4 linked regions of the Homo sapiens genome follow. The protein of the gene in region 3 purifies or fractionates together with the protein of the main gene of each other region. This does not show direct contact. Each region holds a gene or a part of one and is shown on either strand. Other genes may lie near its edges.

Evidence for each region. The genes of interacting proteins can lie anywhere in the genome.
Region 1: the proteins of UTP6 (region 3) and ACADS purify together in Homo sapiens (co-immunoprecipitation; one large-scale study listed by IntAct). This does not show direct contact.
Region 2: the proteins of UTP6 (region 3) and EMID1 purify together in Homo sapiens (co-immunoprecipitation; one large-scale study listed by IntAct). This does not show direct contact.
Region 4: the proteins of UTP6 (region 3) and LRSAM1 purify together in Homo sapiens (affinity purification with mass spectrometry; one large-scale study listed by BioGRID and IntAct). This does not show direct contact.

Annotation. Positions count from the first base shown.
Region 1 is NC_000012.12:120,724,458-120,728,625, reverse strand, and holds the start of ACADS (short-chain specific acyl-CoA dehydrogenase, mitochondrial isoform 1 precursor), read right to left. Parts: upstream 2,801-4,168; 5' UTR 2,741-2,800; coding exon 2,695-2,740; intron 1,601-2,694; coding exon 1,437-1,600; intron 1-1,436. UniProt on the Homo sapiens protein: Short-chain specific acyl-CoA dehydrogenase is one of the acyl-CoA dehydrogenases that catalyze the first step of mitochondrial fatty acid beta-oxidation, an aerobic process breaking down fatty acids into acetyl-CoA and allowing the production of energy from fats.
Region 2 is NC_000022.11:29,204,623-29,208,695, reverse strand, and holds the start of EMID1 (EMI domain-containing protein 1 isoform 1 precursor), read right to left. Parts: upstream 2,801-4,073; 5' UTR 2,658-2,800; coding exon 2,557-2,657; intron 1-2,556.
Region 3 is NC_000017.11:31,891,709-31,895,208, forward strand, and holds part of UTP6 (U3 small nucleolar RNA-associated protein 6 homolog), read right to left. Parts: intron 3,304-3,500; coding exon 3,262-3,303; intron 3,030-3,261; coding exon 2,937-3,029; intron 1,087-2,936; coding exon 1,039-1,086; intron 616-1,038; coding exon 552-615; intron 1-551. UniProt on the Homo sapiens protein: Part of the small subunit (SSU) processome, first precursor of the small eukaryotic ribosomal subunit.
Region 4 is NC_000009.12:127,458,010-127,461,509, reverse strand, and holds part of LRSAM1 (E3 ubiquitin-protein ligase LRSAM1), read right to left. Parts: intron 2,508-3,500; coding exon 2,439-2,507; intron 338-2,438; coding exon 253-337; intron 1-252.

The DNA.
Region 1 (4,168 bases), on a different chromosome or scaffold from region 3:
CTGAGGCAGGAAACAATTGTTTGAACTCAGAAGGCGGAGGTTGCAGTGAGCCGAGATCGCGCCACTGCACTCCAACCTGGTGACAGAGCAAGACTGTCTCAAAAAATTTTTAAAAATAAAAAATAAATTAAAATTAAAATTAAAAAAAAAAACAGGCAAGGAGAAGAGGCCGGAGAGGTTTGACTTTTCACAAATCATTAATTAAACAACTATCTACTACTGAGTGTTTACACCAGGTGCTGGACATCTTTAGGTCAGCGTGTACGGCAGTAACATCTTCAACGCGTAGCTGCAGACAGACTGAATGCAAATGGAAGAACACAGTGGCACGGGAGGGAGCGCGCTGATGGGAAACTCAGGGGAGAAAACAGTTCAAGCAGGCCGGGCACGGTGGCTCACGCCTGTAATCCCAGCACTTTGGGACGCCAAGGCGGGCAGATCGCCTAAGGTCAGGAGTTTGAGACCAGCCTGCCCAACATGGAGAAACCCCATCTCTACTGAAAGTACAAAAACTAGCTGGGCGTGGTGGTGCCCGCCTGTAATCCCAGCTACTGGGGGCCGAGGCAGGAGAATTGCTTGAACCCAGGAGGCAGAGGGGTGCAGTGCGTTGAGATTGCGCCACTGCCCTCCAGCCTGGGCAACAGAGCGAGAGTCCATTTCAAAAAAAAATAAGTAAATAAAAAAGAAAATAGGTCGAGCAGGCTGCCGCTGATGAGCTCCATGACCTTGGGTATGTTATTTAACTTGTTCACAAGTCTGAGTCCATGGGGTATATAATAATACTACCTTTGGCCGGGCGTGGTGTCTCACACCTGTAATCCCAGCACTTTGGGAGGCCGAGGTGGGCAGATCACCTGAATTCAGGAGTTTGAGACCAGCCTGGCCAACATGGTGAAACGCCGTCTTTACTAAAAATACAAAAGTAGCGGGGCAGAGCAGTGCACGCCTATAATCCCAGCTACTTGGGAGGCTGAGGCAGGAGAATCACTTGAACTCAGGAGGCAGAGGCTGCAGTGAGGCGAGGTCGCACCATTGCACTCCAGCCTGAGCCACAAGAGTGAAACTCCGTCTCAAAAAAATAAATAAGAATAGTACCTTCACCTCACAGGACCGTTGTGAGGAACAGATGAGATAACCCATCTCAAGAACAGTGCCTAGTGCATGCCAAACACCCTAAAGGCACTATTTAGAATGAGCACAGTGGCTGGCACAGTAAGCAACTGACCATCCACCACATATTACTGTTGTCCCAGAAGTTAAGTCCTGGCTACTGGCCACAGGCTGGACAAGGGAAACTTCCAGAGCATTTTCTGGGTTCCAGGCCCTGCTTTGGGGTTCCTCTACCAGAGTCCGAGTGCCGCTGACTGTCACTGCCACCATTCATCCAGTAGCAGAGGGCAGACCACTATCGTGGGCTGCTGAGGTTGCACTCTCACCTGAGCCGCTGGGAAGAGATGTTCCTTATCCACCTGGGCTGCAATGGGAAACAACTCCTTCTCGGCAAAGTCCCGGCATGTCTGGAGCAACATCTGGTGTGTCTCGGGCAGTTCCACAGACTGGTAGATGGTGTGTAACTGCCGCCAGGCCCTAGGACAGAGAGCTGCCGGCAAGGGCAGAAGTGAGTGGAAGGAGGAGGCAGGAGGTCTCCAAGAATCCTAGTGACCCACTAACTCACCAGGGAGGATTTTGCCCTCCAAGGGACATCTGGCAATGTCTGGAGCCAGTTCTAGTTGTCACAACTAGAGCAGGGGAATACTATTGGTACCCAGTGGATAGGGGTCCGGGATCCCTGCTGAACATCCAACAAGGCAGAGGACAGCCCCCACAACAAAGAACTGTCAGCCCAAAATGTCCATGGCGGCCACTGAAAACCCCATACTAACTGAATGCTTAGTACACTCACTAGACATTTCCATACACTACATCCTTCAGTCCTCAGTATAATACCAACAGTAATAAGACCTCAGCTCTGTGACCTTAGGCAAGGGTTTTAAACGTCAGTGAGCCTCCGTTTCTATAACAAGTGGAGGCGAATAGTATTCCGCTCCTCGGAGTGCGAAAGAAAGACTAACTAGCGCTTAACACAGTTCTCAGTAGCGTTCCCCTTGTAATTCAGGCCAGGCAAAGGAAGCCGTGGCTATATGTGTCACGGCTGCTACAACTGGAGACACGTAAGATGGGAAAGGTACTGTATTAACCAGCAAGAACGAGCATTTGTGGAACACCTGTTACACGCCAGGCACGAAGTGCTTTACATACCCTATGATTTAATCCTCCCAACAACTCTGATTTTCTCTGTGGACATTTTACACATGGGCCAACCGAGGCTGAGGAGGGGCTGTCTTGCCCAAGGTCACAGATGCGGGTCTGGTTCAATCCCAGGCCTGGCTCCGGAAGAAGGACGCACCCTGAACCTCTAGTGGGGGTGAAATGAAGGGAGGGAGATATGGGAACTGGGAACTGGGCTGGTGGCTGGGGTCAATCGGGGGGTAGGGGTCTGTGCAGGAACCAGGGACGCCTGAAGGGCCGGGCTGGGTCGGCGCAAGGAGCAGCAGAACTGGGGCAAAGGCCGTGAGCGCTCCCGGAGTGGGGCTCCGCCTGCCAGCGGCTCTGACAGAGCCGGCCGCCAGGACCTCCGCCCGCTGGGCCAGACGCGGGCTGAAGCCCCGCCGTACGGATCCCCAGCGCACTCACCTCTGCGGGCAGGGCCCGAGGCCCGGGCGAGCAGCGCGGCGGCCATGGGCGACAGACACAGTCCCAGGCTTCGCGACCTCCCGCTGCGAGCGCGCTGTTCCGGAGTGCTGGGGGGCGGGACCCGGGACAGAGGCCACGCCCGTAGGGCCTCGGGAGCGGGGCCGAGGTGCGCTCGCGGCCAGGGGGCGGGGCCTCCAGTGGTCCCTCCCAAGGCGAGGAACCGACGCTCGACTGCGCGCGCGGTCGGTCAGCTGGCTGTTCGTGCCCACATTCGTTAATCAAAATGCTAACAAGAGAAAGCTAAGGATAGAGCTTCGCAGAAAGGCCAGAGAGGTCTTTTTAAAGCATAAATAAGATAGCGATCTTCGGGTTAAAACTTTGTTGGCTTTGTCGGCGGGCCCATCCCTCCTAAAATCCAATTCTATGGCTTAAAAAGCCAAGACCTGCCTTGTCTATCAGGGCCCATGCCCACCGTTCCCTGGTTATTGTTGCTTAGCTTTACGAGGCAGCTCTTCTCTAAGACCCTTAGCTGGTTCCTGACTCGGGGCCTCTGTGATCACTGTTCCTTTTGTCTGGAATGCCCCCTCTTCGTTTAGGTCTCATGGATGCCTGCCCTGACCACACCAAGCCGTTTCTCCCCCTCTGGCTCTCTATCTTTCGTTCTGTTTATTCAAGGCACTTTGCATCTGAAATTATCTGCTTCCCCGACTCGCTCCGAGAAGCTCAAGGACCTGTCTTGTGTTGGTGCTCAATATTTAGGCCCCTGGAGTTGGGCTGCAAGGAAAGCTTTCTTTTCCCCAGAGGCTGTGAAGGTGGGTGGAGATGCTACCCCCGTTCCACTTCAGTACTGTGTCTCATTCCCGATTGGGGCAGAACCCAGACACATATTTGACCCCTAGCATCCTCATCAGGACACCTTTGCCCCGCCCAAGAAACTATGCTGATTTTACTTGTCCCATAAGGGTCTTCTCTTGTGCAAGTGTGATTCTGATTCCCATAGCCTCCTGGGCACCACCCACGCCCTCCCAGGCACCCACACATCCCTCCAACTGCCTTTCTTTCCCAGCACTCAGCCAGGCAGGCATCTGTTCCCAGCATTGACCTATTTGCCAAAACTTCTGTCTCTTCCTCTTGGAGGAAAGTGGAAACCTCGGTCACTACTTCCTAGAAGAAAGCCAATCAAAAGATGCAGCAAAGTCCTTAATGTGTTACCTTTCTTTTTAAATAATGCATTTAAAAGAACGCCTCTAAATTCTCAGTACTTTAAAGTCAAATGAATGGCTCCCATTGGCAAATGCTCTAAGGGCTTCCTCACCTTTCCGTCATCCCACCTGGGAACCAGCCCTGGGTGGAAGAAACGATGAAGAAGCAGGAGAAAAGGGAGAAATAAGTGAGTTGTGTTTGTGAGCAAAGGCCAATAATTGCTTCAGGTGCCACAGAGCATCTAAACCAGACTCTTGAGAATTTGTGACTG
Region 2 (4,073 bases), on a different chromosome or scaffold from region 3:
GAGGGGGAAACAGGCTCCAAGAGAAAGCACCTACCCAGGTCACCCCTGTGGGCATCAGCTGGGATTGCAGCCCCCTAGACAGAGGCTGGGGCAGATCCCCTCCATTTTAGAGCCCTCCATTCTCCCTGATCCTAGGATTTGCCGGAAGGAAGCCGGTGCTGCAGGGGCGAGAGATCTGGGCTGGTGAAGGCTTGAACCCTCAGCTGAAACGCTGAGATGAGTGGTTAAAGGAAGCAGACTCCAGGCTTAGAAGGACCTCAGCGGGGCAGGAAGCAGCCCCAGGGGCAGGGGCAAGCCAAGGCAGCTCTGCATAGCCCTTGGGCACCCTGGTTCCGGGGGTCTCCAAGTGTCACCACCTTCCTGGGGCAAGGGGCGGCCCCCTGGATGCCTTCCCAGGCCACCCCCTCCCCAGGACAAAGCCTCTTTTCTGCGTCTGGTCCCTTGGCTGCCAAGGGGTGCCTGGGGTGCTGGGGTGTGGGTGGCAGGAAGGCTGACAGGGCATGACACCCCCATGCTGTCTCCAGCAACGTGGGGATGGGGCCACAAGTGGAGGTTCTGGTAGCCCACAGACTCCTCAAGCTCCAGGTCCCTACCCCCATGTGACATGATTGATAGCAGGAACCACTGCAGGTGAGGCCCGGTGCTGGTCCTTCCCACGAGGAAAGAAGGAAACTGAGAGCAAAACTGAGACCCATGGCCAGGAAGTGACCCACTTGAGGTCACACATCAAGCCTGTAAGAGCAAGGAATTCTGTCTCCATTCTGTCCAAGGCTGGAGCCCCTAACTCCTAATCATGACTGCAAACCTTTCCTGGTGCCCCCAAGCCGACAACCTCTTTCCCTCTTCCAGCAAGGCTGCTGGAGAGAAAAAGCCACTGGATTTGGAAATCGACTGGTCTGGACTGAGGTGCCACTTGTCCTCTGTAGGCCTCAGCCTCCGTATCTGTACAATGGGTGCAATAGTGTTGCCCACAGGGTTTTTGGGATGCTCAGGCTACTGTGATAGGCTTCTGTCAACACATGGAGTGACAGTCCCCAGTGACCACCAGATACCTGGTTATAGCCATCATCCTGTTCCCACCCAGGAGACCCTGGGAGGTGAGGAGCCCAGGCTGGGAAGCCCTGCCTTGAACTGGCTGCAGGGCGGTCTGGGCCTTAAGCTGTCGCCACCATCATCCTGAGCCTAACAGTGGGATTTCTGAGTTCATAGTCTCTGTCCTCTTAGCATCTGGGATCCTGGCGGCTCACTTCCATGCTCTGGGCAGGTCATGTTCCCTCTCTGAGCCTCATCTTCCTCCTCTATGAAACAGAATCATAAAGAGCATACCTCCAAGCAGCTGGGAGGATTCTGGAGCTGATGAATGCAGGTAACGGAGCCGACTCAGGCTAACTGTTGTCTGCACACAATAGGTGGTGGCTGTAACATCTGCCACACGTCCACCCCTGTCTCAGACAACTGCTCTTCTGGCCTCTGATGCTTCAACCACCTCCGTCCTCCAGCCCTGCCCATGTCAACTGCTCTTGCTAGCCCAGCAGGGGCATGCTGGCCCCTGACCACTGGGAAAGGAGAATTTCTGAAAAGAATTAAAGAATTGAGGCCGTAGGGGGTGGGGGCCGCGCAGGCCTTTGAATGGGATGAAAAGGCCTGGAGAGGCCTGGCTACTCCACATTGTCTGCCTTGGACAACGGCGGCTGGCCTTTAGGAGGGGACCCTCGCTGGGGCTGCAGCCAGGACAGAGGCCAGGACAGGTTCAAACACTGTCATCAAGGATAGAAGGGCAGATTTGCAACCTAGCTCTTCAGTGAATAGCCCATGAGGCTAAAAGATGATGCCAATTCCCTAGGGTCTCAGTTTGCTTAACCGTTGAATGGGGACAGTTTTCCCTACCTCATTCGGTCCTTCAAGGATTGATGAGGACACTATATATAATAATGGGCCCCACCATGTCAGGTTCTGGGAGCTCCTCCGTAAAGGCCAGCAGGGAGGAGGTTCCCCGCCGCTAGGAGAGCAGAAGGAAGACTGTGCTCCCTCTTTTCTCTGTCCAAAATGCCAGGTCCCTGGGGTATCTCCGACACTGACCCACTGGGCTGTGAGACTCCACCCCAGTCCCTCCTCCGAGGGAGATAAATAGCCTGGGTACAAAACAAACAAACAAAAAACAAAACAAAGCAAAAAAACAGGAACAGGGAAAAGGGGAGAGAGGGTCCGAGAAGAGTCGGCTAGGGGGTGTCATAGGCCTTTCCCAAGTGCAGGGGGAGGGGCCCTAGGGACAGGGGAACAGAAGGGCCAGGGCTTCGCCCTCGTTGCGCCCCTTCCCCCTCCTCTCGAGCTCCTGGGTTGAAAGGGAGGGAGTAGGGGAGGCAGCCAGCTCCGACACATGGAGTAGGGGACCCCGCACTCGCGGGAGCCTCAGCCGGACCGCGGGATGGCCGTGTCCCTGCCCTCACCCGGGCTGGGGACTGGATCGCCCTCCAATCCCAGCCCTTCCTGGAGGTGGGGGCGTGTGCGCGCCGGGACCCTCGGCCAGCGGGGTGCAAAGGCGCCGGGAGCTCTTACCTGCGTCCGGAGAACGGAGCTGCCCCGATGCTCCACGCAGCGCCGCCTCCCGGGAGCAGGAGCCCGAGGCAGAGCAGCGCCCAAGCCCGCGGGCCGCCCATGCTGCACCAGGCGCCCTCCGCGCGCGGCCCCTCGCGGTCGCCGCCCCCAGCCTGTCCTCCCCGCCTGCCTGCCCGCGCCGCCAGCCGCCCCGGACGCGCGGAGCCCGGTTTCCAGCTCCGCGGCCGGAGGGCGGGCAGGAGGCGGGCGGGCGGGGGCGGGGGCGCGCGCTCCCGGCCTCGCCCGGCCCCTCTGCGCTGCCCCCCGCCCCCTGCGCCGCCGCTGCCAACCCGGAAGGAGCCCGGAGGGGCCCGGGCGGCCAGGGCGCCCCCGCCAGGAGGCCCGCCAGGTGTCCACCTGAGCCCCACGCCCTGCGCCGCGGGGCCCTTTTGGGGGCGGGGTGCCAGCTCCGAGGTGTCCTCCCACGGGCTGTAGACTGGGAAACTGAGGCCCGGGCCACGGTCCCAGACGCAGCCGGGACCCGAACCCACCTCACCTGAGCGAATGATATCCGGGACTCATCCTTTTTCGACACCTTTGCGGGATCCAGCCCTCCAAGGAAAGCTTCCTGAGCAGTGCGCGCCACGTGTATTGGGCACCTCACCGCGGCCACTTCACATCCTATCTCAGGTGACTCTTCAAGCCACTCTGCTCGAACTGGGCACAATATCCCCATTTTACAGAAGAGAAAACTGAGGCCCAGGCACTCGCAGTCTCCCTAGGAGGAGATCTGGGCTGACCCCATAAGTGCAGAGTCTGTTCTTATTCTCATTTTACAGGTGGAGAAACTAAGCCACAGAAAGGAGCTGTCATTTACCTAAAGCACCGTGGCAGGGGTTTGGCAGAGCCAGGATTTGTACCCAGATCGCCTGACTTCGGAGAGTAACAGCTCTTAACCACAGCACTTCGGTCTATGCCTTGATTTCACCATATGTAACAAGGTAAGAATTGGTGTTGGGTGGTTTCATCTGGGGTACATGGATGGGCTTCTGGAGGAATGGCTCTACATCCCACAAAGGTATATGTAAGCGTAGTGTGTGTGTGCAGGGGTGCATGTGTGTGTCGTATGTGTGTATGATGGATGTGTGTGCATGCTTGATGTGGATTTATGTGCATGTGTGTTATGTGTGTGTCTGTGATAGGAGTGTGTGTTTATAGGGAGAGACCAGAGCTCTCATCAGAGGGGACCCAGACCCCCAATCTCCCAGGGCAGTCTCTAACCCCGCCTTCTGCCTGGATCGATGGGCAGTAGTTAGGCCTGGGCTGGGGAAGCCCTTGCCCAGCTTGGCTACTTCCTGTTATGGCTTGTCCAGACCCACGGTCCCTTCTAGAAACACTCCCCAGAAAGGATCTGCCAGTCACTGGATTGCCCCTCCTGGACTCACCAGGGGCAGGCAGCATAGGCCACCATAGGCAGGCAGGCAGGCAGGACGGGGGATCCATCACCAGTGTGTCCACATAGAGAAAGCTGTTGCCCT
Region 3 (3,500 bases):
ATTTTGCCATCATCTAAAAAGAAATACAGTCTGGCCGGGAGTGGTGGCTCACGCCTGTAATCCCAGCACTTTGGAAGGCCAAGGCGGGTGGATCACGAGGTCAGGGGTTCGAGAGACCAGCCTGACCAACGTGGTAAAACCCAGTCTCTACTAAAAATACAAAAATTAGCTGGGCGTGGTGGCGGGCACCTGTAATCCCACCTACTCAGGAGGCTAAGGCAGGAGAATTGCTTCAACCTGGGAGGCGGAGGTTGCAGTGAGCCAAGATCACACCACTGCCCTCCAGCCTGGGCGACAGAGCGAGACTCCGTCTCAAAAAAAAAAGAAATACAGTCCTTCTTGCCTGCAGATACAACACCTAGGACAGTAACTAGTATATAGTAGGCAGGGGTGAACTATGAGGCAGCTATTCAGTAAGAAAAACTGCTGAGGCCAACTGCCTAAGCTCAAGTCCTCAAAATAATTTCTCTTAGATTCATCAATCGAAATAAAATCCAAAATGGCTTGAGTCTAAATAAAACATAGAAAAATTGACAAAGATTTCACCATACCTGGTTTGTTGGAATGAATCGCCAACATGGCAGAGAATACCTTGCTAAGTCGAGTTTTAGTAGCCTGTAAAAAAGGAAAATATTTCTACTTCCTGCACAGATAAATCATTGATCTTACTCTCTAAGTAATATGTACCCTAACTTTACCAACTGTAAAATCCAATGGAGCATGACATGCTATTGCTAGGGATATATAAACGAACACAGACCCTCAAAATTTTCTACCTCAATTAAACCACTAAACACTTTAAATATCTTTTTAAAAAGTCAACTGTATTGAACAAACACACGTAAAAATTATATTCTTTTCAATTGAATTGGAAACCATAGTCATTCAGATATCCAATGTTATATTGATGTTCCGCCTTCTTGGGTTCTTTTTTCATGTTAACCCTACACTTCAGGAAAAAACATCTGGCATGAAGCTTAAAGGGCAGATTAACAAAAAGACGGTCAGAGGAAGCAAGACATGCATGGCTTTACTCACCCACTTCTTACAAAAAGCCACATAGGAGAGCCAAAGTTGAACATCGTCCTGCAAGAAAAGCAATGTAGTAAGCTGCCCAAATTTGACCTTTACATATAATACACCTTTGCATTAATTAATTTTGCTAAAAACAAGCAAATTTCAGGTTGGATGCGGTGGCTCACACCTGTAATCCCACCACTTTGTGAAGCCGAAGCGGGCGGATCACTTGAGGTCAGGAGATTGAAACCAGCCTGGCCAACATGGTGAAACCCCACCTAACCTAAAATTACAAAGATTATTGGGAGGCCAAGGCGGATTGATCACTTGAGGTCAGGAGTTCAAAACCAGCCTGTCAAATATGGTGAAACCCCGTCTCTACTAAAAATACAAAAAAATTAGCCGGACTTGGTGGCAGACCCCTGTAATCCCAGCTACTCAGGAAGTTGAGACAGGAGAATCGCTTGAAGCCGGGAGGCCGAGATCGGGCCACTGCACTCCAGCCTGGGCAACATAGGGAAGCTCCAACTCAAAAAAACAAACAAAAAAAATTAGCCAGGTGTGGTGGTATGTGCCTGTAATCCCAGCTACTAGGGAGGCTGAGGCAGAAGAATCACTTGAACCTAGGAGGCGAAGGTTGCAGTGAGCTGCCGAGATTGTGTGCCACTGCACTCTAACCTGGGTGACAGAGCAAGACTCCACCTCAAAAAAAAAAAAAAAAAAAAGCCAGGCACAATGGCTCAGGCCTGTAATCCCAGCACTTTTGGAGGCTGAGGCAGGTGGATCACCTGAGGTCAGGAGTTTGAGACCAGCCTGGCCAAGATGGTGAAACCCTGTCTACTAAAAATACAAAAATTAGCCAGGCGCGGTGGTGCGTGCCTGAAGTCCCAGGTACTGGGGAGGCTGAGGCAGGAAAATTGCTTCAATCTGGGAGGCAGAGGTTGCAGTGAGCCAAGATCACACCACTGCACTCTAGCCTGGGCAACAGAGCAAAACTCCATCCCCCACCAAAAAAAAAAAAAAAAAAAAAGAAGCAGATTTCAGAAAATCCAGTCACCTCTCATCCTATCTGGCTCTTCCTCACAAAGGCCTCCGATCTCTTAACTATGATAATTCAACCTTTCCCCCAACTCCCACTCACAATGCTCCAAAAAAACTTTGTTATCTATCCAGTTGGTTTAATGCAGTTCTTAAAGAATCTCAATCTGGGGTAGCAATATAAAATTTGTCATTACCAAGAATCCAAAATACTTCTCATATAATATACCCAATCCCAAACACTCCCGTAATCCCAGCACTTTGGGAGGCTGAGGTGGGCAGATCACTTGAGCCCAGGAGTTCGAGACCAGCCTAAAAAACATGACGAAACCCTATGTCTACCAAAAATACAAAAATTAGCCAGGCACGGTGGCATGCGCCTGTGATCCCAGCTACTGGGGAGGCTGAGGTGGGAGAATCATTTGAGCCTGGGAGGCAGAGGTTACAGTGAACCGAGATCACCCTACTGTACTCTAGTCTGGGCAACACAGTGAGACCTTATCTCAAAAAAAAAAAAAAAAGAAAAAAAAAAAAATCAAGTTTCTGAGGTATTGCCCCTACATAACCATTTATTTTCTAGCTCTAAGTCTTCAGTGTACTTACAAATATATACAAATATCTCCCAAATTTCCAATCCTTAGTAATGTATCAAATACACTGTTTTCAGCACTGTCCTCATAGAATAACTATAAGGTAATAAGATCAATTTTCTTACTGGTTTGTTAAGTGGCTCAAAAAATGTTTTGAGTAATGATACCATCATTAGAGTAAGTATAAAGATACCCAAGATAAAAATAGAAAACTGCATTTGAATCCCTAATACAATATGTATAATACTTATCTTCACATCTCATAAAGTTAAGGATGCCTTGATCACTCACTTTCCATTTTGCTGAGGCACGCTGGAAAACACCTTGTACCCGGTGTACAATAGAATTCTCAATCTCATCCTTCTTAAATGAATATCCAATGCGCTAAAGGGGGACATAAAAAAACAGAGCCTCAACTTAATCATATTTGTCCAAAACAGCATTCCTACTTGACCACTTAATGGTACTGATGAAGCAAACAAATAATTACAAATATCCATTATAGGCATATCACCACAGTTTTATCAACACTGTCTCCCAAACACAAGTCCTAACTATACAGCCATACTGCTTAGTTCTGTATTTTTCTCCAACTTCTAGAAAATCTTCTACTTACTGTTCTTCTTCTCTGGATCAGCTCCAAAAGATTAATTTCATACTATGAAAGAAAAACATACAAAAAAATGAGAAGCTAGAAAATCTAAAACCTTTTAAATACTGGAAATTTAGTTAAAGTCATAAAACAAAAATCGAGAATATAAAATAAAAAATAATGTGCTATCACATAATTTACAATAAATGTCTAGAACTCACTTAAAATTCACTTAGCTATAAAACTTAAACAGAATTAACAAG
Region 4 (3,500 bases), on a different chromosome or scaffold from region 3:
GGGGCCCAGCTGCCCTCCTCCCCATACGGCCATACGGCCCTGGCTCTCAGGAGCCACAGGAACCCTCCAGACAGCCTGTCTCTGGTTACCATGAAGACAGCTGACCCAGCAGGGGTCAGTCCATTTACAGCGACCCCCGGAGACTGGCTGCCCTCCTGCTCAATGGCTCCCGGGCGGGGCAGCCTGTGGATCCCGGCCAGGATGGCCCAGAGCTGATGGAGGGTCACACGGACACGGCTTCTTGGTCCCTACCTTTAACATTGAGAGTCTGGAGCTGGGTCAGGTTCCCAATGGAACGTGGGAGCTGCATCAGTTGATTCCTTTCCACGTTTAAGACCTAAGAAAGAGGAAGAGGCAGCCAGGCGCAGTGGCTTATGCCTGTAATCCCAGCACTTTGGGAGGCCGAGGCAGGTGGATCACAAGGTCAAGAGTTCAAGACCAGCCTGGCCAACATAGTGAAATCCCATCTCTACTAAAAATACAAAAATTAGCTGGGCATGGTGGCACACACCTGTAGTCCCAGCTACTCGGGAGGCTGAGGCAGGAGAATTGCTTGAACCCAGGAGGCAGAGGTTGCGGTGAGCTGAGATTGCACCATTGCACTCCGGCCTGGGCAACAGAGTGAGACTCCGTCTCAAAAAAAAAAAAAAAAAAAAAAAAAAGAAAGAAACAGGAAGAGGTGACACGAGAACCCACACACAGACCACAGTGATGACCCCCGCACCCCTCGCCCTGCCGGGCCAGGGCACCCAGGCACTACACACACAAGCTCTTATCTCCCCCTACCGGCCCTTGAGGAAGACAGAAATTCTTGTTTCCGCTGGAGACAGGAAAAAAACTGAAGCTCAGGGTGGCAAAGTCACGTGCTCAGGAGAGCACAGCCAGGCCTTGAACCCCTTCTGGCTGAGGTTCCAGCACTTACACCGACCACAAAATGCTCAGTAACTGCCCCACCATCAGGGAAGGAGGGAGAAGGGGACTACAGACTTGGGGATCTGGGGAGGCAGCACAGGAGGCTCTAGTTCCCCTGGCCTTAAGGAAAAGGCTGCCCTAAGGCCGTGTGATCCACCCAAGGCCTCAGGCCGGCAGTGGTGCTGGGACTGAACCAGGGCTTGTTGGATTCCGAAGCTGTGCTCCCTCCAGAAGGTGGTACCTCGAGGTGAGCAAGGCTAGCAGGATGACACACTAACCATTAAAAATAGATGCAATGGGGGCCAGGCACGGTGGCTAACACCTGTAATCCCAGCACTTTGGGAGGCTGAGGTGGGTGGATCATGAGATCAGGAGATTGAGACCATCCTGGTGAACATGGTGAAACCCCGTCTCTACTAAAATATAAAAAATTAGCCAGGCATAGTGGTGGGCGCCTGTAATTCCAGCTACTTAGGAGGCTGAGGCAGGGGAATCGCTTGAACCCGGGAGGTGGAGATTGCAGTGAGCCGAGATCACACCACTGCACTCCAGCCTGGTGATAGAGCGAGACTCTATCTCAAAAATACAAACAAACAAAAAATGATGCAATGGAAAGCTAAGTAGCCATTAAAAATAATAAGATGAATATTTGATGAACCAAAGGATGCTATGAGTTATTGTCAGGTATCCAAAAGTTACAAATTAGTGAATGCAGCAATTCTATAAAAATACACCTACTGGCCAGGTGCAGTGGCTCATGCCTGTAATTCCAGCACTTTGGGAGGCCAAGACGGGTGGATCACCTGAGGCCAGGAGTTTGAGGTCAGCCTGGCCAACATGGTGAAAACAAGTCTCTACTGAAAATACAAAAATTGTCCAGGTGTGGTGGCGTGTGCCTGTAATCCCAGATACTCAGGAGGCTGAGGCATGAGAATCTCTTGAACCCGGGAGGCAGATGTTGCAGTGAGTTGAGATGGTGCCACTGCACTCCAGCCTGGGTGACAAGAGTGAGAAAAAAAAAATACACATACAAAAAGTCCTACACCAAGGTATTTATTGTGGCTCAAAGTGGTACAATTGGTCAGGCGTGGTGGCTCACACCTGTAATCCCAGCACTTTGGGAGGCCAAAGTGAGTGGATAACTTGAGGTCAGGAGTTTGAGACCAGTCAGGCCAACAAGGCGAAACACCATCTCTACTAAAAATACAAAAACTAGCTGGGAGTGGTGGCACACACCTGTAATCCCAGCTACTAGGGAGGCTGAGGCAGGAGAATCGCTTGAACTCGGGAGGCAGAGGTTGCCTCTGCAACTCTGATGGCGCCACTGCACCCCAGCCTGGGCAACGCAGTGAGGCACTGCCTCAAAAAAAAAAAAAAAAACCCCAAAGGGCCAAGGGGAGGGTGGAGCTGGCACTGATTGCAGCCTGCTTCCACTGGCTGGAGCCCGGCCAGAACATTCCAGGCTTGAGTGACTGCCTGGTCTCACTAAGGCCATCCGAGGTGGGTTTCTGTTTCTGCAGCCTTACCTGGAGGGCAGTCAGCTGCCCCAGATCGTCAGGAAGGGCTGTCAGCTGATTATCGTGGAGATCTAGAACCTGCAGAAGAAAGACCCCTGTGAGTCTCCAAGTGAGAAAGTCCCTCAGACTCCGGGCTCCAGAGCGCTGAGGAGGGGCTGGGGCCACCTCACACCCCCAGTGCAGAAACAGAGTGCCTGCCACTCCTTTCCCACTCAGTGTTGATCATTCCCGCCTCATTTTCCTTCTCAAACCATTATACCATTTTCTTATTTTATGTATATTTATTTTTACTGTTAACTGAAAAACTATGCTATAAAACAGTATGCCTAGATACTAATATGTTAAAAAGAAACACTCCATTGTATAAATATGTAAGACTTTCAAATATGCGATAAAATATTGACAGTGGTACTCCACAGTGTAAAATTATAGATGTTTCCCCCTTTGCTTAACTGTACTTGCTAATTTTTAATTTAATTTTATTTTATTTTGTTTTATTTTGAGACAGAGTCTCACTCTGTCACCCAGGCTGGAGTGCAGTGGCACGACCTCAGCTCACTGCAACCTCCACCTCCTGGGTTCAAGTGATTCTCGTGCCTCAGCCTCCCAAGTAGCTGGGATTACAAGCACAAGCCAACATGCTCTGCTGGTGTTTTTTTTTGTTTTGTTTTGTTTTGTTTTGTTTTGTTTTTGAGACGAAGTCTCGCTCTGTCGCCCACGCCGGACTGCGGACTGCAGTGGCGCAATCTCGGCTCACTGCAAGCTCCGCTTCCCGGGTTCACGCCATTCTCCTGCCTCAGCCTCCCGAGTAGCTGGGACTACAGGCGCCCGCCACCGCGCCCGGCTAATTTTTTGTATTTTTAGTAGAGACGGGGTTTCACCATGTTGGCCAGGCTGGTCTTGAACTCCTGACCTCAAGTGACCCACCCGCCTTGGCCTCCCAAAGTGCTAGGATTATGGGTGTGAGCCACCACGACTGACTGCTAATTTTTTAAAAATGAAAATGCACAAAAAAGGCCTTGGAGAAATATTTATACATGTGCACACACAGGTACCCTCCATATCTATGGA